2 separate regions of the Homo sapiens genome follow, and region 2 is reported to be linked to region 1. Evidence: microRNA targets listed by miRTarBase, many of them from high-throughput screens and not tested one by one. Region 1 holds a microRNA gene; the other region holds the end of a gene's coding sequence. Distances are between the middles of the regions.

The links. The annotated mature microRNA hsa-miR-638 reads AGGGAUCGCGGGCGGGUGGCGGCCU and lies in region 1 at 7,531-7,555, opposite strand. An mRNA with a match to its seed (bases 2 to 7 or 8) in the 3' UTR can be bound and repressed. Matches are read on the target gene's strand: a 7mer-m8 pairs with bases 2 to 8, a 7mer-A1 pairs with bases 2 to 7 and ends in A, and an 8mer does both.
Region 2: miRTarBase lists DACT3 as a target of hsa-miR-638. Seed matches in the 3' UTR shown: 7mer-m8 at 8,358-8,364.

The regions. Positions count from the first base shown.
Region 1 is chr19:10,713,909-10,725,973 of GRCh38, reverse strand. MIR638 (microRNA 638) reads right to left here and starts at 7,570; the gene lies at 7,471-7,570. DNM2 (dynamin 2) reads right to left here and starts at 7,895. Exons shown (of 21, transcript NM_001005361.3): 1 at 7,571-7,895. The coding sequence starts at 7,731. RefSeq lists enhancers at 6,737-6,876, 8,317-8,436, 8,627-8,816 and silencers at 7,367-8,036, 10,168-10,357.
Region 2 is chr19:46,639,500-46,650,239 of GRCh38, forward strand. DACT3 (dishevelled binding antagonist of beta catenin 3) reads right to left here. Exons shown (of 4, transcript NM_145056.3): 4 at 8,052-10,373. The coding sequence ends at 8,983. Among named protein-coding and RNA genes, the nearest start is that of GNG8, 8.7 kb to the left of the region's middle. RefSeq lists silencers at 63-162, 8,950-8,999.

The DNA of each region.
Region 1 (12,065 bases):
GCTGGGAATACAAGTGTGAGCCATCGCTCCCTGCCAAAAAAATTTTTTTGTAATTAGCCAGGTGTGGTGGCTCATGCCTATAGTCCCAGCTACTCAGGAGACTCAGGTGAGAGGACCACCTGAACCCAGGAGTTGGAGGCTGCAGTGAGCCATGATTACGCCACTGTACTCCAGTCTGGGGGACAGAGCAAGAGAAAAGAAACGTACACCTGTCATCAGAGTCCTGATCCCAGATAAAAGGAGACAAAAGCCAACCAACGAGATCACAAATGCTGCCTGTTTCACAACAATTTGCTACGTGATTCTCAGTCCACTCCCAGTAGGCAGAGACCACCATGTTCCCATTTTCCAGATGAGGAAACTGAGGCCCAGAGAAGTGAGGTCACTTTTTTGGTGTGTGGCAGAACCAAGCCTTCCATATTCCCACAGATCCCTCTGGACTGTACCAATTCCAGCAGGCCCAGCACTGCAGACCACCCTAACCGAGCCTTGCATGGCCTTTCCTTTTTTCCTTTTTTTTTTTTTTTTGAGATGGAGTCTCACTCTGTCCCCCAGGCTGGAGTGCAATGGCGTGATCTCCGCTTACTGCAAGTTCCTCCTCCTGGGTTCAAGTGATTCTCCTGCCTCAGCCTCCCAAATAGCTGGGACTAAAGGCATGCGCCACCACACCTGGCTAATTTTTGTATTTTTAGTAGAGATCGGGATTCACTATGTTGGCCAGGCTGGTCTCAAACTCCCAACCTTGTGATCTGCCTGCCTCGGCCTCCCAAAATGCTGGGATTACAGGTGTGAGTCACCATGCCCGGCCATGTATGGCCTTTTCAAGATGCAATTTGTCTTTGCCCAAAAGGAAAGTCACTGGAAACAGAAGATGTCATTTCCAAGTGGCTCTAAACTAATAAGATCTGTTAAAGGGACAAACCAGCCCAAGGAACACATCACGTGCCCCTCCATCTGTCAGGGACAGGAGCCAACGGGCATCCGATGTGCACTGGTGCAGCACCCACTGAGGCACAGGCAGTGCCCCCGCGGCTCATCCACATATCCCTGGAGGGACACATCACCAAAGGCCAAATAAAAACGCAGCTGGAAACGCCAGCATCCCCGGCACAGCTGCTTCTTATTAAAAGAAAAATGGCACGGGGCGCCTACATGCCTGTGGAGTCTGCTTACTGAGAAAACTGAGTTGAAGCTGGAAATCAAAGGAGAGAGCCCTCAGCTTGGCCAGGTCCAGAGGGACAGCAGTAGCGCCACCAGCTTTACTTCCCTCTGCTCAGACAGCCTCCCTGCCCACAATGTTCCTAGAGGCCTGGTCCCACCCTAATATCTCCCAGATCTGATCTCCCTCCACTGGCCTGCTAAACTGGCCTCCGGGCATCCTCCCACATCAGGACCTTTGCACTGGATTCTCTTCCCGTCTCCAGGGGTTCCTTCCTCGCCTCCTTCAAGGCTCTGCTCAAATGTCACCAATTTCCCTATTTAAAATGTACCCCCTCTGGCCAGGCGCAGTGGCTCACGCCTGTTATCCCAGCACTTTGGGAGGCCGAGGCGGGCGGATCACGAAGTCAGGAGATCGAGACCATCCTGGCTAACATGGTGAAACTCCATCTCTACTAAAAATACAAAAAATTAGCCGGGCCTGGTGGCAGGCGCCTGTAATCCCAGCTACTCGGGAGGCTGAGGCAAGAGAATGGCGTGAACCTGGGAGGCGGAGGTTGCAGTGAGCCGAGATCGCGTGACTGCACTCCAGCCTGGAAGACAGAGTGAGACTCCGTCTCAAAGAATAATAATATAATAAAATAAAATGTACCCCCTCCAACTGTGATCTCTCCCTCATCCTGCTCCTTGATCCTTTTTTCCATCATACTTATCGCCTTTTTTTTTTTTTTTGAGACGAGGTCTCGTTCTTCCGCCCAGGCTGGAAGGCAGTAGCGTGATCAGAGCTCACTGCAGCCTTGAAATCCCAGGCTCAAGCCATCCTCCGGCCTCAGCCTCCTGAGTAGCTGGGACTACAGGTGTCACCATGCCCAGCTAATGTTTTTATTTTTTGTAGAGACGGGGTCTATGTTGCCCAGGCTGGTCTCCAACTTCTGGGCTCAAGTGATCCTCCCGCCTGGATCCCAAAGAGCTGAGATTGTGGGCCTGAGCCACTAAGTGGCCCATGCTTCTCCTTTATTTGCTTCCTGCTGAAAGGCCAGCTCCTCCAGAGCAGAAGTTCTGGTAACTTGCTCAGGGCCATGTCCCCAGGCACACAGTAAAAGTACTCAGGAAACATTTTTTAATGAACGAACAACACCTAATGTTTTAAGCACTTCTTCTATGCCAAGCACTCCAAACTGTCTCACTTAATCCCTATTCAAGAAAGGGAAAGAAGTGCTATTATAACTCCTATTTTAAAGAAGACGGGGCTGGGCGCGGTGGCTTACACCTGCAATCCCAGCACCTTGGGAGGCCAAGGCAGGAAGATCACTTGAGGTCAGGAGTTTGGAACCAGCCTGGCCAACATGGCGAAACCCCATCTCTATTAAAAATAGAAAAATTAGCCGGGCACGGTGGCTCACGCCTGTAATCCCAGCACTTTGGGAGGCCATGGCCGGCAGATCACCTGAGGTCGGGAGTTCGAGACCAGCCTGACCAACACGGGAAAACCCCGCCTCTACTAAAAATACAAAATTAGCCAGGCGTGGTGGTGCATGCCTGTAATCCCAGCTACTCAGGAGGCTGAGGCAGGAGAATGGCTTGAAACCAGGAGGGGAGGTTGCGGTGAGCCAAGATCGTGCCATTGCACTCCAGCCTGGGCAACAAGAATGAAACTCCGTCTCAAAAAAAAAAAAAAAAAAATTAGCCAGGTGTGGTGGCTCGCAACTGTAGTCCCAGCTACTCGGGAGGCTGAGACAGGAGAATCACTTGAACTCAGGAGGCGAGATTGCAGTGAGCCGAGATCGCACCACTGCACTCCAGCCTGGGCAACAGAGCCAGACTCCGTCTCAAAAAAAAAAAAGAAAGGGAAAGAAGTGCTATTATAACTTGTATTTTAATGAAGAGGAGGCTGGGCGCAGTGGCTCACACCTGTAATGCCAGCACGTTGGGAGACTGATGCAGGAGGATCATTTGAGGCGAGGAGGTCGAGACCAGCCTGGGCAACACAGCAAGGCCCTGTATCTACAAAAAATGAAAAATTAGCCAAGCGTGGTGGCACGTGCCTGTAGTCCCAGCTACTTAGGAGGCTGAGAGGTAGGAGAATCGCTTGAGCCCAGGAGGTCAAGGCTGCAGTGAGCAGAGATGGTGCCACTGCACTCTAGCCTGGGTGACAGTATAAGACCCTATCTCAGGCCAGGCGCGGTGGCTCACGCCTGTAATCCCAGCACTTTGGGAGGCCGAGGTGGACGGATCACAAGGTCAGAAGATTGAGACCATCCTGGCTAACATGGTGAAACCTCGTCTCTACTAAAAATACAAAAATTAGCCAGGCGTGGTGGCGGGTGCCTGCAGTCCCAGCTACTCGGGAGGCTAGGGTGCGGGAATGCCTAAGGCCTTCCTTCTGGCCAGCCCCTGAGGCTAAATGACAAGGGTCAAGAGGGAGTGATGCCCTCCTTTCTCCTTAGGGCCAAAGTTCTATCTGCTGGTGCACCGCAGACAAGCCAGGGGTCTCAAACTCAAAGGTTCCAGGGCCAGGAGGCTCCAAGCAAAATGATCTAGGCCTGGGTGAGTGCTAGGGAGTAGTGGGGACTGTGGCAGCTGGAGTGGCCACTCTTAGTCTGATGGGACAGTGACTGGTGCTTCTGAAATCGAAGCCATTACTGCCACAAGGGACAAAGGCTCAGCAACGCCAGGTGAAACTGATTACAACAACAGCCACCATGCGTATAAGACACATGCACTCGGCACGCATCACCCAATCACCCATCTAGGCCCCAGGGTACCAGTTACCACCCTCAGCTTACAGAAAAGGAATCTGAGGCCCAGAACGCCAAATCCACGTGGCCGAGTCGCACAGCCAGACATGGTGGAACCAGGCCTTAGGCCCACAGCCTTTGCATGACAACTCAGAACTCTATAGATCTGAGTGTCTTAGAGCCACAAGAAATCCGGATATTGACTGGAAATCTAACACTGGAAAGTCTTATTAAAAACAAAAGCTACGCAGGTAAAACAAAAGACCCAGCAGGCAGGCCTTGGCCCCCAGAGCCAGTGATCTGGACTTCCAGCTATAGGGCTGAACTAACTGGGCTGTTCCCACTCGGACCACATCCTTAGAAAATCCAGGCTCGGCGCAATGGCTCACACCTGTAATCCTAGTGCTTTTAGAGGCAGAGGCAGGAGGATTGCTTGAGCCCTGGAGTTCGAGGCTGCAATGAGCTAGGACTGCACCCCTCCACTCCAACCTCGGCAACAAAGAGAGACCTTATCTCTTACACCCCCCCAAAAAAAAGTAAGCCTTGTTTGAGCCCCTCATACCCAAAGAGAGGCCTTTTTACAACTTTGGCTTTCAGGTACTGAATTAATACTCTTAACGAGGCCAGCCATGGTGGTTCACACCTTTAATGCCAGCATTTTGGGTGGCCGAGGTGGGCGGATCACCTGAGGTCAGGAGTTCAAGACCAGCCTGGCCAACATGGTGAAACCCCATCTCTGCTAAAAATACAAAAATTAGCCGGGTGTGGTAACGCGCGCCTGTAATCCCAGCTACTCGGGAGGCTGAGGTATGAGAATCGCTTGAACATGGGAGGTGGAGGTTGCAGTAAGCTGAGATAACACCACTGCACTCCAGCCTGGGGAACAGAGTGAGACTCGGTGTAAAAATATATATATAATGAGCAACTCCTGCATTGCAGGATTCTAGGAGGTCGCCACAGGAACCAGCTCCATACTGGCCGGCAGCTGCCAGACACCATGGTAGACAGGAGAGAAAGGCAAGGGGTAGAGGGACTGAGGAGAGGTAAGGATGGGAGAGAGACCCAGGTTCCCAACCCAGAACACCTAACTCCTCACTTTACAGCCTCCAGTGAGAGTGTTCTGCTCAGCTATCTGAGCCTCAGTTTCCTGCTCTGTAAAATGGGGATTATAGCAATGCCTCCCTCATAAGGCTTAAGTGTGTAACGTGAAAGCACTTTCATTCTGGTTAGCTTTTGTCCCTGATAGCAAAGGAACCAGCCAGATAAACAACAATAGCCCCATCCATGTAGACCTACTATGTGCCAGGCAGTGCGTTAGGTAAGTAAGCACTTTTTCTTTTCTTTTTTTGAAACCGGATCTGGTTCTGTCACCCAGGCTGGAGGGTAATGGTGCAATCACGGCTCACTGCAGTCTGGACATCCTGGGCTCAAGCAGTCCTCCCAGGGCCAGCCTCCTGAGTTGCTGGGACTACAGGTGTGGGACTACCACCCTACCTGGCTAATTTTTTTATTTTTTGTAGAATGGCATCTTGTCATGTTACCCAGGCTGGTCTTGGAACTCCTGGGGCGAGGCTTGGTGGCTCACACCTGTAATCCCAGCACTCTGGGAGGCCAAGGCATGAGGATCACTTGAGGTAAGTAGTTTGAGACCAGCCTGGCCAACATGGTGAAACCCCGTCTCTACTAAAAATACAAAAATTAGTTGGGCTTGGTGGTAGACGCCTGTAATCCCAGCTACTCGGGAGGCTGAGGCAGAAGAATGGCCTGAACCTGGGAGGCAGAGGTTGCAGTGAGCCAAGATTGCTCCACTGCACTCCAGACTGGATGACAGAGGGAGACTCTGTCTCAAAAAAAAAAAAAATAAATAAATAAATAAAATAAAATAAACTTGTTTAGGAGAGTCAACCAAGACTTAGAGAGGCCAAGACAACCTGTGCAAGGTCACAAGGCAAGTGAAAGAGACAGAGCTTTGCAAACACCCCCCACCCCCGTCCCAGAAGCCTGGGCAGGCAGGAAGATGGTCACTCAAAGGGGCCCACACCACAGTCCAGCCTGAGATCAGGCCAGGCCCAGCTGGCTGCAAGTCCACACCTTTCCACCACGGTAGACAGAAGGCAATGAGCTAGAGACAAGGTAGCAAAAGAGGAGATTTGTGCTGCTTGGAGCAAAGCCCCAAGGCTCTGGGATGGCAGACACAAGGCCTTACGCCAGCCTAGTGGCCTTGGGTGATCACAGTCCCTTCTGAGCCTCCCAGCTCAGCTAAGGTGGGGATGATAACACAGCCTCCACCCCACTCCTTACTTGGGATTCAAGATGTTGAATCAAGAAGGGACATTATCCCTTGACAATGATAACAACAATAACAATGACAATAATGACAGGAGGAGGATGTTATCATTTGGCAGCCACACCACCACAAATGAGTAGTTCCTGGAATGGAGAAGTGGCCGCCCATCTGGGAGACAAGAAAGGCAAGAGGGGTTGGTGGGAGGGAGAGGTGGCTGCACGGGCTGTTCTCATTCATTTGCTTCCTGAATCCTGGAAACAGCCCCAGAGAGTGGAGTTTGCCCACTGGACAGATGGGCACACCGCGGCTTCTCAAGGCTGTCCAGAGAAGGCTACATCCCAGCGCTAGCCACTGAGGCCTGATCACGCAAGAAGCCCCTTCCCAGGCTCCAAAGGAGGGCCCCCAATTTGTAGGCTGTAGCTGGGAGGCGGGCCCCTGTGTTCTAGCACTCGGAAAGGAATCCTGAAGTAAGGTACCCCCAGAGTCCTCCTTCCAGCTGAGAGGGGAAGTAGGGTCCAAACCTCCTCCTTCAGCTCTGTTCTCCCCTCTACCCTCCTACCACCCCTTTCCAGAGCCGTTGTGCCAGACACTCAGGGGTAGTCATGGGCAGACTAGGAGATGGCCAGACAGACAGAAGAATTCACACGGAAGAGAGGAGCCAGCGCTAGCCAGGAATCAAGCTGTAAGAGTCAGCCAGAGAGAATCAAACAGGGTCCCCTAGGAGTCAGCTAGCCAGTCAGACAGTAGAGGCCAGCTGGTGTCACCCAACAGAGGGACTGCTCAGTGTTAAAGTCTGTGAGGGGCACGGATGGGCGGCCAGACAGCAGAGGTCACCCTGGACAGCTAGCCAGACAGCAGGGGGCTGCCAGGTGGGACTGGACAGATGGACAACCAAATGGTGGTGGCAGGGAGGCTTGCCCAGGACAGAGAGACAGCCAACCAGACGGCGGGGGCAGCTCCAGATACAAGAACAAGCCAGCCAGACCGCAGCGGTCGCCCCAATAGATATCTAGATGGCCGGTTTCACCTCTGATGGACAGCCCGAAAGAGCAGAAGAGGGATCTACCCCAGACCCACGGCCAACCAGATGGCAGACTTCACCCACGAAAGCTGGGACCAGATGGACCGCAGGGTTCCAGCGCACCTCCTGTCCTACGGCGCCCTGGCCCGTGACACCGCCCCTGGGGCCCGGGCCTGCTCCGGAGCCCCTGCAGGGAGTCCTCTGCCCAGGGCGTCCCACAGGGCCCGCCTCCCCGACCCCGTCCGGTTCCCCGCCGCGGGCACGCAAGCGCCGCAGTTACGCCGGCGGCGCACGGCGCGCCATTCCCGGTCCGCCCTCCGCGCCCTAGGCCGCCACCCGCCCGCGATCCCTGCCGCGCCCGCTCACCGGCCCACGAAGTTCTCCAGCACCGAGCTCTTGCCGGCGCTCTGGCCGCCCACTACAGCGATCTGCGGCAGGTCCAGGTGGCAGCTCTGGCCGATGGAGCTGAAGGCGTCCTGCAGTTTGTTGACCAGCGGGATCAGCTCTTCCATCCCGCGGTTGCCCATGGCGCCGGCGGCCCCCGGCCCGAGCGCCCTGCGCTCCTCGCCCGCCGCCGACCCTCAACGACCTGGCCCCGCGGCGTCTGTAGCCGTTGCTCCCCGCCCGCCCGGGCCTCGGCAAGACGCCCGCTCCCGGCTCGGCCTCACGGTCGCCGCCTCATCCGGTTCTCAGGCGACACCCGACCCGAGCGACCTCCCGCCCCGGCCCCGGGGGCTGCGCCCAAAGCACTCGCGCCGCACGCGACTGGCCTGCTGCACCGCCACTCGGATACACTAGCCAATAAAAACTAGGCACGGGCCTATGGTTGAGTAAACCTTCCCCCTGGGGACCGTCTTGCTGACTTATTGGACAAAAGAACCGTCACTGTTGTGCAACAGCCAATAGCGGCAGAAAGCAAGTTGTCAAGAGAGGAAGGGGGTGTTTCCGAAAAAGGCACGTTGGCTCTGCCCATTGGCGAAGTTCCACCATCTTATTGGCAGGCAGACGTGCCAGTAGACAATGTGGACCAATGGTGTTGGGGATTGAGCTACTACCTCGTTCCCTAAGAATTTCCCATTGGTTCATATAAATATCACTTCGTTGCTCCAGCCAACCAGGCAAAAGAGGGCGGGCTTTAACATCCGAATCTTGACTATCATTGAGAACCATATCTGTCAATCAGAAAAACTCCCGTTCTTCCTTGTGATTGTTGGATGTCTGCAACAGCCTTCTGAAGTATAGGATAGATCCCACCGTACTCGCTCAAGGGCGACACCTCGTGGTGGGATCCGATGTCTCGATTTTTGAGTTTCCTGGCACTGGGGAAAACTACAAGTCCCAGAGCGCATCTCAGTTCCCAGACTGCAAACCAGCTCTGGGAGCAGGGTCCCAATGCGCTCTGCAAATGGTAGAGGCCAAGTCATTGCTTCCTAGGGATAGAACGCAATAAAATCACTCCTCCACGCCTTTGCAAATGCTGTGCCCTTTCTGCTCACGCCCGATCTTGACGCCGCTAACACTCCAATGTTTTCCCCCACTTCTTCAACTTTAGCAGATCATGAATCTTTTTTCTTTTCTTTTTTTTGAGGCGGGGTACTCACTCTGTCACCCAGGCTGGAGTGCAGTAGCGCGATCTTGGCTCACTGCAACCTCCGCCTCCCCGGTTCAACCAATTCTCCTGCCTCAGCCTCCCGAATAGCTGGGATTACAAGTGTGAGCCACCACGCCCAGCTAATTTTGTATTTTTAGTAGACGGGGTTTCACCATATTGGCCAGGCTGGTCTCGAACGCCTGGCCTCAAGTGATCCGCCCGTCTTGGCCTCCCAAAGTGTTGGAATTACAGGTGTGAGCCACCGCGTCTAGCTAATGAATCTTCTTTTCTTAGAAACTGGGTCCTTACTCTGTTGCCCAGGCTGGGGTGCAGTAGTGCACTCATAGCTCAATTCAACAAGCACCTGGGCTCAAACGATCCTCCCGCCTCAGCGTCCCGAGTAGCTGGAACCACAGACGTGCGCAACTATGCCCAGCTAATTATTTTTATTTTATTTTTTATAGAGACAGGGTCTTGCTGTGTTGTCCAGGCTGGTCTCAAACTCCTGCGCCCAAACGACCCTCACAGGCCGGCCTCCCAAAAGTGCTGGGATTACATGTGTGAACCCCCCCAACTGGCTTTAGATCTTTTTGAGTACCCACTAAAACTCAACAAATCCTCTCCCCGTGAAAAGACACGCTATTTTGTAGGCAAAATTGGGGTTCTGGGAACTGGAACTCCTGACAGTGGACAGAGACAAATAGGAGGATTTGAAGTGTTTTGACCCCTCTGGAGACAAATAGGCCAGAGACAAGGAAACCCAGTGAGAAGGCAGGAGCAGGTAAGTGCTCTGACCTGAGGCAGCACAAGAAGATGGAGAAAGAGGAGGAGGGTGGCTCATGGCATTTGCCTGTTTTGTGACCCAAAACCCCAGGTCTCAAAGAAATAGGCAAAAAGCGCCAGGTGCGGTGGCTCATGCCTGTAATCCCAGCACTTTGGGAGGCCAAGGAGGGCAGATCACCTGAGGTTAGAGGTTCGAAACCAGCTTGGCTAACATAGTGAAACCACGTTTCTACTAAAAATACAAAAAATTAGCCAGGCGTGGTGGTGCGTGCCTGTAATCCCAGCTACTCGAGAGGCTGAGGCAGGAGAATCGCTTGAACACGGGACGCAGAAGTTGCGGTGAGCTGAGATCGCACCGCTGCACTCCAGCCTGGGCAACAAGAGCAAAACCCCGTCTCAAAAACAAATAAACAAACAAACAAAAACGTTGAGGAAACTCTTCATGTACTGAAGTATAAATAATTTGAGATATACTAAGAGGAAAAAACAAGCAAGGTACAGAACTGTGTGTGAAGGATGCTGACATGCATGAAAACCATATGTACACACGGAAAATTGCTGGAAAAATACATAAATTGATAAAAGTAGTTGCACTTTTGATGTGATTTGAATTGTGGATTACATACATGTATTACTTTTTCACTTTTTTTTTTTTTTGAAACAGAGTCTTGCTCTGTAGCCCAGGCTGGAGTGCAGTGATGCAATCTCAGCTCACTGCAACCTCCGCCTCCCGGGTTCAAATGATTCTCCTGCCTCAGCCTTTCAAGTAGCTGGGACTACAGGCGCCTGCCACCATACCTGGCTAATTTTTGTATTTTTAGTAGAGATGGGGTTTCACCATGTTGGCCAGGCTGGTCTCGAACTCCTGACCCAGATGACCCTCCCTCCTTGGCCTCCCAAAGTGCTGGGATTGCAGGTGTGAGCCACCGCGCTTGGACTTTTTTTTTCTTTTCTTTTCTTTTTTTGAGATGGAGGCTTGCTCTGTCTCCCAGGCTGGAGTACAGTAGTGCGATCTTGGCTCACTGCAACCTCCAAGTCCTGGCTTCAAGCGATATTCCTGCCTCAGCCTCCAGAGTAGCTGGGATTACAGGCACGTGCCACCACACCCAGCTAATTTTTGTATATTTAGTAGAGATGGGGTTTCACCATGTTGGCCAGGCTGGTCTTGAACTCCTGACCTCATGATCTGCCCTCCTTGGCCTCCCAAAGTGCTAGGATTACAGGTGTGAGCCACCACCACGTCCAACCTTTTTTTTTTTTTTTTTAGACGAAATCTCGCTGTCTCTCAGGGTGGCGTGCAGTGGTGCGATCTCGGCTCACTGCCACCTCCACGTCCTGGGTTCAAGTGATTCTCCTGCCTCAGCCTCCAGAGTAGCTGGGATTACAGGTGTGAGCCACTGCACCTGGCCTACTTTTTCCATTTCAAAAACTTCATTTTTGAAGAGCACTGGTTTTTGTTTTTGAGACAGAGTCTCACTCCGCTGCCCAGGCTGGAGTGCAGTGGTGCAATTGCAGCCTCAACCTCCTGGGCTCAAGCAATCCTCCCACCTCAGCTTCCTCAGTAGCTGGGAGCACAGATGCACACCACCTGTATTTTTTGTAAAGAAGGAGTTTCACCGTGTTGCCCAGGCTGGTGAAGATCACTAGCTCTGTAACTGATCATATCTGGGTTAGATCCTGGGCCTGTTTATTTACTGATTATTATGGTCTGAATGTTTATAGACCAGCCCTCTACCCCATCACCCACCACACCAAGATTGACATGATGAAACCTAATCCCCAACATGATGGTAATTGGAGGTGGAGCCTTTGGAAGGCGATTAGGTGATTAGGTGAATGGGATTTGTGCCCTTATGTATTTTTTTTTCTTTTCACAAACCTGCTGAGCTTCTCACTGCGCCTTCATAAAAGAGACCCCAGAGAGCTGCCTTGCCCCTCCCGCCATGTGAGATTAGAGAAAAGATCGCCATCTAGGAAGTTTGCCCTCAACAGACACTGAATCTGCTGGTACCTTGATCTTGAATTTCCCAGCTTCTAGAACTGTGATAAATAAATTTCTGCTGTTTATAAGCCACCCAGTTGATGGTATTTTGTTATATATGGCAGCCAGAACGGACTAAGAAAGTGACAGTGACCATGTAAACTTCATTCCTCTGTGCCTCAGTGTCCTCCTCCGTAAAATGGAACACGACTGTACATGCAACATCAAGTTGCAAGAGTAGACCGGGTGTGGCGGCTCCAGATCGAGGCTACAGTGAGCCGTGTTTGAACCAATGCACTCCAGCCTGGATGACAAAGGGAGACAGTCTCAAAAAAAAAAAAAAAAAAAAAAAAAAGAGGCTGGGCACTGTGGCTCATGCCTGTAATCCCAACACTTTGGGAGGCTGAGGCAGGCAGATCACTTGAGGTCAGGAGTTTGAGACCAGCCTGGCCAACATGGTGAAACCCCATCTCTATTAAAAATACAAAAATTAGCCAGGCGTGCTG
Region 2 (10,740 bases), 36 Mb from region 1:
TCCCCTTGCGGGCTCAACGGGGCCAGATAAAGGAGGGAAACCAAGCCCACATCTGGAAAGCATCAGGCGCGCCGGACGTGCCAGGGCCCCAGGCCCGGCTGCGGAAGAGGGGAGGGGAGCCAAGGCGCTCCTCGCCCCGCCATCGGGGTCCGCCGGCGCCGAGGAGGGGCCTGGGCGTGTGCCGAGCCTCCGCGCCTCTCGCAGCTGGTTTCTATCAGCAGTCTGGCCTGGGCAGCCCCCGAGGAGGAAACCAGCTCAGAGAGGGGGAAGACAGGGTGACGATCCAGTCTTCCCTCCCGCTCCTCCACCGCGGCCAGAAGCTGGGGGATGGGGGAGACGGACAGACAGACACTGCCTGCCGTGAGCGCAGCCTCCGTTCCTCTCCTGAGCTGCAGACCGCAGCAGATGACCTCAGTTCCTGTCCTGTGCCCCAGCCTCATGACAGCCTAGCGCTTGAAGGCATTACAGTCCCCATTTTTTGGAAGAGGAAACTGAGGCCCTGGATTCGGATTCCGTTCTGACGTTAATTATTCAAGAAATCATCAACAAACGGCAAGAGTGAATTCCAGGATCAAATACCCAGCCGCCTGGGTGTTTAGTGGGTCTCTCGAGCTCAACGCATCCAATACTGAGCTGATTCCATCGACCAAAATTCGCTCTTATTTCAGGTTTACCCATCTCAAGTGATGGTAAATCTCTGAGTTTTTGTTGTTGTTTTGAAACAGGGTCTTGCCTGTCGCCCAGGCTGGAGTGCAGTGGTGCAATCATAGCTCACTGCAGCCTGAACTCCTGGGCTCAAGTGATCCTCCTGCCTCAGCCTCCCCGGTAACTGGGACTACAGGCATGCACAACCATGAACAGGTTTTGTTTTGTTTTTTAACAGAATCTCACTCTGTCACTCATGCTGGTGTACAGTGGCACAATCTCGGCGCGCTGCAACCTCCGCCTCCCAAGCTCAAGCAATTCTCATGCCTCAGCCTCCTGAGTAGCTGGGATCACAGGCATGTGCCACCAAATCCGGCTACTTTTTTTGTATTTTTAGTAGAGATGGGATTTCACCATGATGGCCAGGCTGGTCTCAAACTTTGGCCTCAAGTGATCCACCTGCCTCAGCCTCCCAAAGTGCTGGGATTACAGGCGTGAGCCACTGTAACCAGCCTAACTTTTTATTTTTTTTTAGAGGCAGGGTCTGGCTATGTTGCTTAGGCTGGTCCTGAACTGTGAGCCACCACACCTGGGCTGGGGTCATCCTTGACTCCCCGCCTTCTCTCACACTCCACAAGTCACCAAGTAAGACATCCTGTTGGCTTTATCTTCAAAGCAATTCCAGAATCCAATCCCTCTCACTTCCTCTGCTGTCCCCACTTGGGTCCAGACACCGTTCCCTCCTGCTTGGACTATTACAGTGACCTCTGCATTGACCTCCTATCTTCTCCCTGTCCCCCTCAGCCTGTTTCCCACAGAGCAGCCAAAAGGACACTGTTTCAAACTGTCCCCATATAATAGCAAGTGAGTATGTGGAGCAACCTGAACCCTCATAAGCTGGTGGGGATGTAAAATGGTGAAGTCGCTTTAGGAAACAACCTGGCAGGCCGGGCGTGGAGGCTCATGCCTGTAATCCCAGCACTTTGGGAGGCTGAGGCGGGCAGATCACTTGAGGTCAGGAGTTCAAGAGCAGCCTGGGCAACATGGTGAAACCCCATCTGTACTAAAAATACAAAAATTAGCTGAGCATGGTGGTGCACGCCTGTAATCCCAGCTACTTGGGAGGCTGAGGCAGGAGAATCGCTTGAACCTGGCAGGTGAAGGTTGCAGTGAGCCAAGATCGCACGACTGCACTCCAGCCTGGGTGACAGAGTGAGACTCTATCTCAAAAAAAAAAAACAAAAAAAACCCTGGCAGTTCCTCAAAAGGTTAAACATAGAGTTAACGTATGACCCAGCAATTCCACTCCTAGGTGTATATCCAAGAGCAATAAAAACATACAAACACGTATATAAAAATGTTCACAGAGGCAATATTCATAATAGCCCAAAGTGGAAACAACACACGTTCATCAACTGATGAATGGACAAATGAAATGTGGTCTATCCAGACAATGGACTATCAATTATTTGTCAATAAAAGGAAATGAAGTACTAATACCTGCTACAACATGGATGAAAGTTGAAAACAGTATGCTGGCTGGGTGCGGTGGCTCACGCCTGTAACCCCGGCACTTTGGGAGGCCGAGGCAGGCAAGTTGCTTGAGCCCAGAAGTTCAAGACCAGCCTGAATAACATGGCAAGACCCTGTCTCTACAAAAAAACATTAAAAAATCAGCCAGGCACGGTGGCATGTACCTGCAGTCTCAGCTTCCCAGGAGGCTGAGGTGGGAGGATCACCTGAACCCAGGAGGTAGAGGCTGCAGGGAGCCGTGATTGCACCACTACTCTCCAACCTGGGCTAAGTGAAAGAAGCCAGTCACTAAAGGCCTGTATTGTATGATTCCATTTATATGATATGTCCAGAACTAGCAAATCTATAGAAGGCAAAAGTAGATTACTGGTTGCCAGGGGCTGGGAAGGTTGGAGGATGGCAGCTGTGGTGCAGGGTTTCTTTAGGTGGTGATGGAAATGTTTTAGAATTCATTGTGGTGATATTTGCACAACTCTGAATATACTAAAATACTGGTTTTTTCTTTTTTTTTGAGACTGAGTCTTGCTCTGTTGCCCAGGCTGAAGTTCAGTGGCGTGATCTCGGCTCACTGCAAGCTCCGCCTCCCAAGTTCAAGAGATTCTCCTGCCTCAGCCTCCCAAGTAGCTGGGATTACAGGCGTGCACCACCATGCTTAGCTAATTTTTGTATTTTTAGTACAGATGGGGTTTCACCATGTTGCCCAGGCTGCTCTTGAACTCCTGATCTCAAGTGATCTGCCCACCTCAGCCTCCTAAAGTGCTGGGATTACAGGCATGAGCCACCACGCCTGGCCACTAAAATACTGAATGTCTTTTATATTCAATATATTTAAAAACATTGAACTGTATACTTTACGTGGGTAAATTTTTTGGTAGGTGAATATATCTCAGTACAGCTATTAACCCTCCCCCCCACCAAAAAAAAAACTTTAAAAACTCTCTTTTATATGCTCAGAATTCTCCCATGGGTGCCAGGAAATAAAAACCAAAATCCCCACCATAGCCCACGAGGCCCCCATGATGTGACAGTCCTTACCTCTTCTCCCTCTCACCTCCCCACTCCAGCTGGCCTCCTTGCTGTTTTGCCAACATGCCAGGCAGAGTTTTGCCTCAGGGCCTTTGCACTGGCTATTTCCTCTGCCCAGGATATTCTTCCCCAAGATATTCATAAGTCTCACTCCTCCACCTCCTTCAGGTCTCTGTTCAAATGTCATCTTCTCAATTAGACCATTCTTTTTTTTTTAGACGGAGTCTTGCTCTGTCACCCAGGCTGGAGTGCAATGGCGCGATCTCGGCTCACTGCAACCTCTGCATCCCGGGTACAAGCGATTTTCCTGCCTCAGCCTCCCGAGTAGCTGGGACAACAGGCACATGCCACCACGCCTGGCTAACTTTTGTATTTTTAGTAGAGACGAGGTTTCACCATGTTGGCCAGGGTGGTCTCAAACTCCTGACCTCAGGTGATCCACCTGCCTCGGCCTCCCAAAGTGGTGGGATTACAGGCATGAGCCACCATCTTCTCAATTAGACCATTCTTGATCACTCTACTTAAAATTACACACTCCCTTGGCCAGGCACACTGGCTTATGCTTGTAATCCCAACACTTCGGGAGGCTTAGGCAGGAGGATCACTTGAGACTAGGAGTTGGAGACCAGCCTGGGCAACATGGTGAGACCCTGCCTCTGCCAAAAAAAATAAAAATTAGCCATGCATGGTGGTGTGTGCCAAGCTGCTTGGGAGACTGAAGCAGAAGGATCCCTTTAGCCCAGGAGGTCAAGGTTGTAGTGAGCCATGGTTATGCCACTGCACTCCAGCCTGGGTGACAAAGTGAGACCCTATCTCAAAAAATAATAAGTAAAATTACAAACTCCCCGCTTCACCACCCCACCCAATCCCCTCATATCTCTGGTCAGTTTTTCCCTATAGTCATCACCTTTAACAAACTATAGAATATATTTATTATGGTACCACCACCACCACCCCCAGCTTCCCTCCCTGGGACCCATTCCTGGTATATCCTTTTTAAGATCATGGTTCCAGCAAATAGACCATGTAGGGCACTGACTAAGGCCATGAACTCTGAAAATAGTGTGCCTGAATTTGAATCCTGGCTTTGCCACCTATGAGCTTCAGATACATTTTTGTTTGTTTGTTTGTTTGTTTGTTTTTGAGATGGAGTCTCACTCTGTCACCCAGGCTGGAGTTCAGTGGTGTGATCTTGGCTCACTACAACCTTACAACCTCTGCCTCCCAAGTTCAAGTGATTCTCCTGCCTCAGCCTCCCAAGTAGCTGGGATTACAGGCGCCCACCACCACACCTGGCTAATTCTTTTTTTTTTTTTTTTTTTTTTTTGAGACGGAGTCTCACTCTGTCGCCCAGGCTGGAGTGCGGTGGCGCGATCTCGGCTCACTGCAAGCTCCGCCTCCTGGGTTCACACCATTCTCCTGCCTCAGTCTCCTGAGTAGCTGGGACTACAGGCGCCCGCCACCGCGCCCGGCTAATTTTTGTATTTTTAGTAGAGACAGGGTTTCAGTGTGTTAGCCAGGTGGTCTCGATCTCCTGACCTCGTGATCCGCCCGCCTCGGCCTCCCAAAGTGCTGGGATTACAGGCGTGAGCCACTGCGCCCAGCCTCCACGCCCGGCTAATTTTTTAATTATTAGTGGAGACAGGGTTTCACCGTGTTGGCCAGGCTGGTCTCGAACTCCTGACCTGGTGAGACGTGACTTTCACCTTCCGCCATGATTGTGAGGCCCCCCCAGCCACGTGGAACTGTGAGTCTATGAAACCTCTTTTTCTTTAAAAATTACCCAGTCTCAGGTTATATCTTTATCAGCAGCATGAAAACAGACTAATACAGGTGGAGAGGATTAAATGGGTCAATATGTGTAAAGTGGTGAGAATAGAGTCCAGCACGTCATAAGTGCTCAAATAAGTGTTAGCTGTTATTTTTTGTAAGCACTAAAACCTTAAAAGGGAGACCCTTAAATATCCATCCATATTTACTTCAACCATTTTGGCCACTAAGTGACCTATGTAGCCCTAGACAAACAAATCTCTTCTCCTTTCTGACTTCAGTTGCCCCTTTTATGGAATGAAGTTGGAGTAATTGTTCCCAAGGACCTGCCAAGCAATAGCTTTTCCTGGAAAAACTTTTAAAAATAACTTTTATTCATTATTACTCTAAGTGAAACATAGGTCTATCCCTCACCCTACCCCCACCATAGAAGCTCCGTAGGGCAGGGTTTTTTTTTCCTGTTTTGTCCCCTGCTCTAACCCCAGTGCCTGGCTGGGCGCTGAAGATACAAGTGAACACAGCAGGCCTGGTCCCTGCTCTTTCCGAGCTCAAAGGGAGGTAGATCTACCCATGCAGATTCAAAGGTCAAAGCAGCAACACACACCCCATCCTTCTGACTGTGGATTCAGGTGGGGGCTGGGTCCTAGCCCTGGATCCCCCTTGCTTTGTGACCAGGGAAAGTAATGGCTCTTCTCTAAGCCTCCATTTACCCACCTGAGAACTGAGTATAATTTTACATACCCAATAGAAAAACAGGACGAGCACGGTGGTTCACGCCTGAAATCCTAACACTTTTGGTGGCCAAGGTGCAAGGATTGCTTGAGGTCAAGAATTCAAGGCCAGCCTGGGCAATATAGTGAGAGTTCATCTCTACAAAAAATTGGAAAATTAGCCAGGCGTTGTGGTGCATGCCTGTTAGTCCCGGCTGCTCAGGGGGGTTGAGGTGGGAGGATTGCTGAAGCCCAGGAGTTCGAGGCTGCAGTGAGCTATACCACTGCACTCCAGGCTGGGTGACAGATCAAGACCCTGTCTCAAAAAAAAATAATAAAAAATAAGAAGGAAGGAAAGAAGGAAAGAAGGAAGGAAGGAAGGAAAAGAGTAAAAAGGCAATTCACATAAGAGGAAATGCAAGAGCCAATAAGCACCCAAAACTATGTGTTACCTCAAGGAAAAGGGAGGAAACGTGCTAATTAAAACAGAACACAGTTTCTCCCCATAAGATTTGCAAAATGAAAATGATCAATAGCATCTATCGTTTGGTGAAGGGGTAGAAAACAGACATCTGAAAAACTGCTGTTAGAAATGTCAGCTGGGGGCAGTGCTAATGGATGGAAGTGTGGCAGTGTCCATTAAAAGTTCTTAAATTGGCATACTATTAATGACCAAGCAACTCTATTTCTAGGAATGGGTCCTATAAAAATACACACAGACATGCACAAAGAGGCAAATACAAGGACATTACTGTAGCAAGATTCATAATAGCAAAAGAATTGGAGAGCTGACAATAGGGTTAGATTATGAGAATCCCCATAATGGAGTCTTCTTTTTTTTTTTTTTTTTTTTTTGAGATGGAGTCTCACTCTGTCACCCAGGCTGGAGTGCAGTGCAGTGATCTTGGCTCACTACAACCTACACCTCCCAGGTTCAAGTGATTCTCCTGCCTCAGCCTCCCGAGTAGCTGGGACTATAGGCACACGCCACCACACCTGGTTAATTTTTGTATTTTTAGTAGAGACAGGGTTTTGCCATGTTGGCCAGGCTGGTCTCGAACTCCTGACCTCAGGTGGTTCACCTGCCTTGGCCTCCCAGAGTGCTGGGATTACAGGTGTGAGCCACCTCACCTGGCCATAATGGAGTCTTATATGCACCTATCAATAATAATATAGTGATAGGAAAATGTGTTACCTAAATTTAGATGAAATGGGCCAGACATGGTGGCTCACATCTGTAATCCTAACACTTTGGGAGGCCAAGGCAGGAGGATCACTTCAGCCTACGAGTTCAAGACCAGCCTGGGCAACATAAGGAGATCCCATCTCTACAAAAAGTTTAAAAATAGCTGGGCAGGGTGACGTGGACCTGTGGTCCCAGCTACTCAGGAGGCTGAAGTGGGAGGACTGTTTGAGCCTGAGGGTTGATGCTACAGTGAGTCATCATCACACCACTGCTCTCCACCCTGGGTAATAGAGCAAGACCCCATCTCAAAAAACAAAAGAAAAAATAAGTAGATTTAGACGAAATGGACAAATTCTTAGATGAATAGGGCCTAGCAAAACTGACACAAGAAAAAATAGAAAACCTAAATAGTACTATAACTATCAAAGAAATTCAATCCTTAATTTAAACCCTCCTCATAAAGAAATCTTCAGGCACAGAGATTTCACACAAAGAAGTGATAAACACTGCATACATATAGTTCAATTTATGTAAATATATAATTTCACACATATATTACATATATAACTATATGTATATTCATACATATATATTTATATAGTTATTTAGATTCATATATATATGCAAACACATAAACATGGGAGGATGCACATCGAACTGCTGATTATGATGACCGTCAGAGAGGGGATTTAGGGGCTGTCTGTTTCCCATGCTGTTCCCATTTTTGTGAAACCATATTTTTTTGTTTTTTGAGACAGGGTCTTGCTTGTCATCCACGCTGGCGTGCAGTGACACAATCATGGCTCACTGCAGCCTGGGCCTCCCAGACTCACATGATTCTCCCACCTCAGCCTCCTGAGCAGCTGATAGTTCAGGAATGACCTACCACACCCAGCTAATTTTTGTATTTTCTGTAGAGATGGGGTTTTACCATGTTGCCCAAGCTGGTCTTGAACTCCTGGGCTCAAGATATCCCCCTACCCCTGCCTCCCAAAGTGCTGGGATTATAGGCATGAGCCATCACATCCCGCCTGAAATCGTATTTATAACCAAACATAACCCAATCAAAGGTTAGATTCCTTGATGTAAAATAGCCAATGGTAGGAAGATGATGTTGAGATTCACCCTGGGACCTCCCTGGAAACTGCCATATCCACAGCAAACAGAAGTTGCTCAATAAATGTTAGTCCAAAGGAAAAAGAGCATTTCTCCCATTTAATCATTCAGTGAGAGTCCACCACATATGTTACACTGTGCATTTATTTACAAAGAGGTTAGAGAAACACACAGAATCTGGCCCCCCTTTGCACTGGGGAGTCACCATCGTCATAATAAATACAGTAATTTTAAAAAAGAAAAAAAATACTAGATTGGAACAGCTGAGGGTCATCAGGCTTCCCCCATTCCCTCTCACAGGGAGTGGGGGTCATGAGATAGAAACCATCTTCCTTCCCCTCTTCTACCTCCGAATCCTCCATAATTGTCCAGGGATCGAAGTGAAAGAGTCCTTCTTTCCAGGTGTTACCAACCCCTACTTGACCCTCAAAACCCCCAAATCAGTGCTCCTTCCCTTCCCAGGGCACTCTGCAGGGACCACCTGAGTCAGACACAGAGTCTCTGACCAGGGTGCCAAGGGGATATCTTAAGGGTCCAGGGACATGGAGGGGGCACTTTGTGAATGAGAGGGGGCCATAGCTGGGCAAGGAAAGGAGGAATGAGAGGGCTCATCAGGAATGAGAGGGAGAGCGGTGGAGGGGAACAAACAGACTAGGCTTCTAAACTAAAACGGGGAAATTCAAACCGAATTACCCCTTTTGCATACATGGACACTTACTGTACAGATGAGGAAAGTGACGCCCAGAGAAGGGGAACTGTCTTGCCCAAGGGCTTCCAAGCTAGAAGCTGAACTGGGTCAAACAGGGCTCCTCCCCATTCCTCTCGGTGGTGGTGGGGGAGCCTTTTCAACCAAGACTGTTAGGAGTGGGGAGAGTGAGGGGGGTCTTTGGAAGCAGAGAAAACGATGGTCTTTGGAAGGTAGATGTGGAAGGGTCAGTGGTTGGGAGTGTGGAGGTGCAGAGGCCATGAAGGGGGAGCCCAAGCAAATCCCCAAACTCACACTGTAGTCATGACCTTGAGAGAACCCGAACGGAAACGCAGTATCTTTTTCTTGAGCGCGTGGGAAGCTTTGATTTTCACGAAGACTTTGGCGGGGCCTGCGGGCGCCCCTGCACCTGCTCCACCCCCAGAGGCCGCGGTGGCCGCCACCAGCTGCTGCGGCCACACGAGGCCACCGCTGCCGTCTGAGTCGCTGGAGGCAGAGCTGAAGGCAGGCGATTCTCCCTCGCTGGCGCTCGATTCGCTCTCCCCGTAACCCCCGCCGACGCCTCCCGCAGGCCCCCGGCGTCCCAGGGGCCCCAGGCGCCCAGCCGAGCACTCGGAGTCGCTGCCCGCGCAGCCGTAAAGCAGACGACGCTGGGGAGCTGACGGGGACGGGCCGGGGCCGGGAACACGCGCCGCAGGGGCTCGGGGCCGCACGCGGCGCCCATCGGCAGCGTCGATCTCCGCAGTGGAGCGCCAGCGACGGCAGGACCCTGCGGCCTGGGCCGCCAGCGTGGGCGCTGGGCCGCGGCGTGGCCGTGGAGGCCGAGGCTCTTCCCGCTCCGCCGTGGGGTACTTAGGGGGCCCCGAAGGGACCGCGGAGGCGCGGCCCAGCAGGCTGGTCTCAGACTGGGAGCGCGAGGCCTTGCGGGCCCTGGGCGAGCCGCGGCGGCCCGAAGCCTCGGCCATGCGTCCACGGCGGCCGGCGGCCCGGGGACGCTCCCGGGGTGGTGACTGCTCCACGCTGCGGCCGCGGGTCAGTGGCGGCGGTTTGCGGCGGGCGGCGCGGCCAGGGAGGCCTCGGGTGGCCGCCTGCGCGCCCGGGATGTACTGCGCCTTCACCAAGCGGCCCTCAGCCGGGCTGTCGGGGGGTGAGGGGGCGGCGGGCGGCGCAGCGGGCTCGGGTGCCGCCTCCGACTCCCACGACGACGCCCAGGCGCGGCTCAAGGCGGCAGGGCTGGTGGGGTGGCCCCCGACGCGCTCCAACGAGGGCTCCCGCGCGGGTCGCGCGCTGCCGGGGGACGGAGACGCGTCGGGCGGCCGCTGGCGCACGCTGTTCTGGCGCCGCGGGCCGCCGTCCGCGCCCCCGGGACTGGTCCGGGGCTGGCCCGCCCCCCGGCGGCGGCGCCTGCGCAGGAGCGCCGAGATGTAGCCGTCCAGGGGCCGCCCTGCGCCCCCCGCGTCGGGCGAGTCGGTGGGAGGGCGGCCGCAGGGCCGCGGGCTGCGCATCGCCACGGCGTGCAGGGGGCTGGGCGTCAGAAAGGGCCCGGCGCGGGCCCGCCGCTCCGCCGAGGAGCAGGCCTCCGGGCCGGCGGACCCCCCTGCCGTCGGGTAGGGCGCTGAGAAGGACCGCGGCACCGCTGCCCGCGCGCCCACCACCTCCGGAGCGCTGGGACTGGCGTCTCCTAGGGAAGGAAGGCCAAAAAAAAAAAAAAAAGAGAGAGTGGAGGGGCTCTCAAAGTCCTTTCCCATTTCTCATCCAGCCCGGAAGGGGCGGGTTGCCTCCCTCCCTTCCATCCTCATCGCAGCAAAAACCCTGCTCTCACACCTTCCTTCTTGTAAAATTCATAATAAAATCTTTACAGGGTCCTACAAGACCCTGCGTGACTTGTCCTGCCTCTGCCTCTGCCTCTCCAACTCTCACAACATCTTACCCCCTATTTTTTTTTTTTTTTTTTTTTTGAGACGGAGTCTCGTTCTGTCGCCCAGGCTGGAGTGCAGTAGCCCGATCTCGGCTCACTGCAAGCTCCGCCTCCCGGGTTCATGCCATTC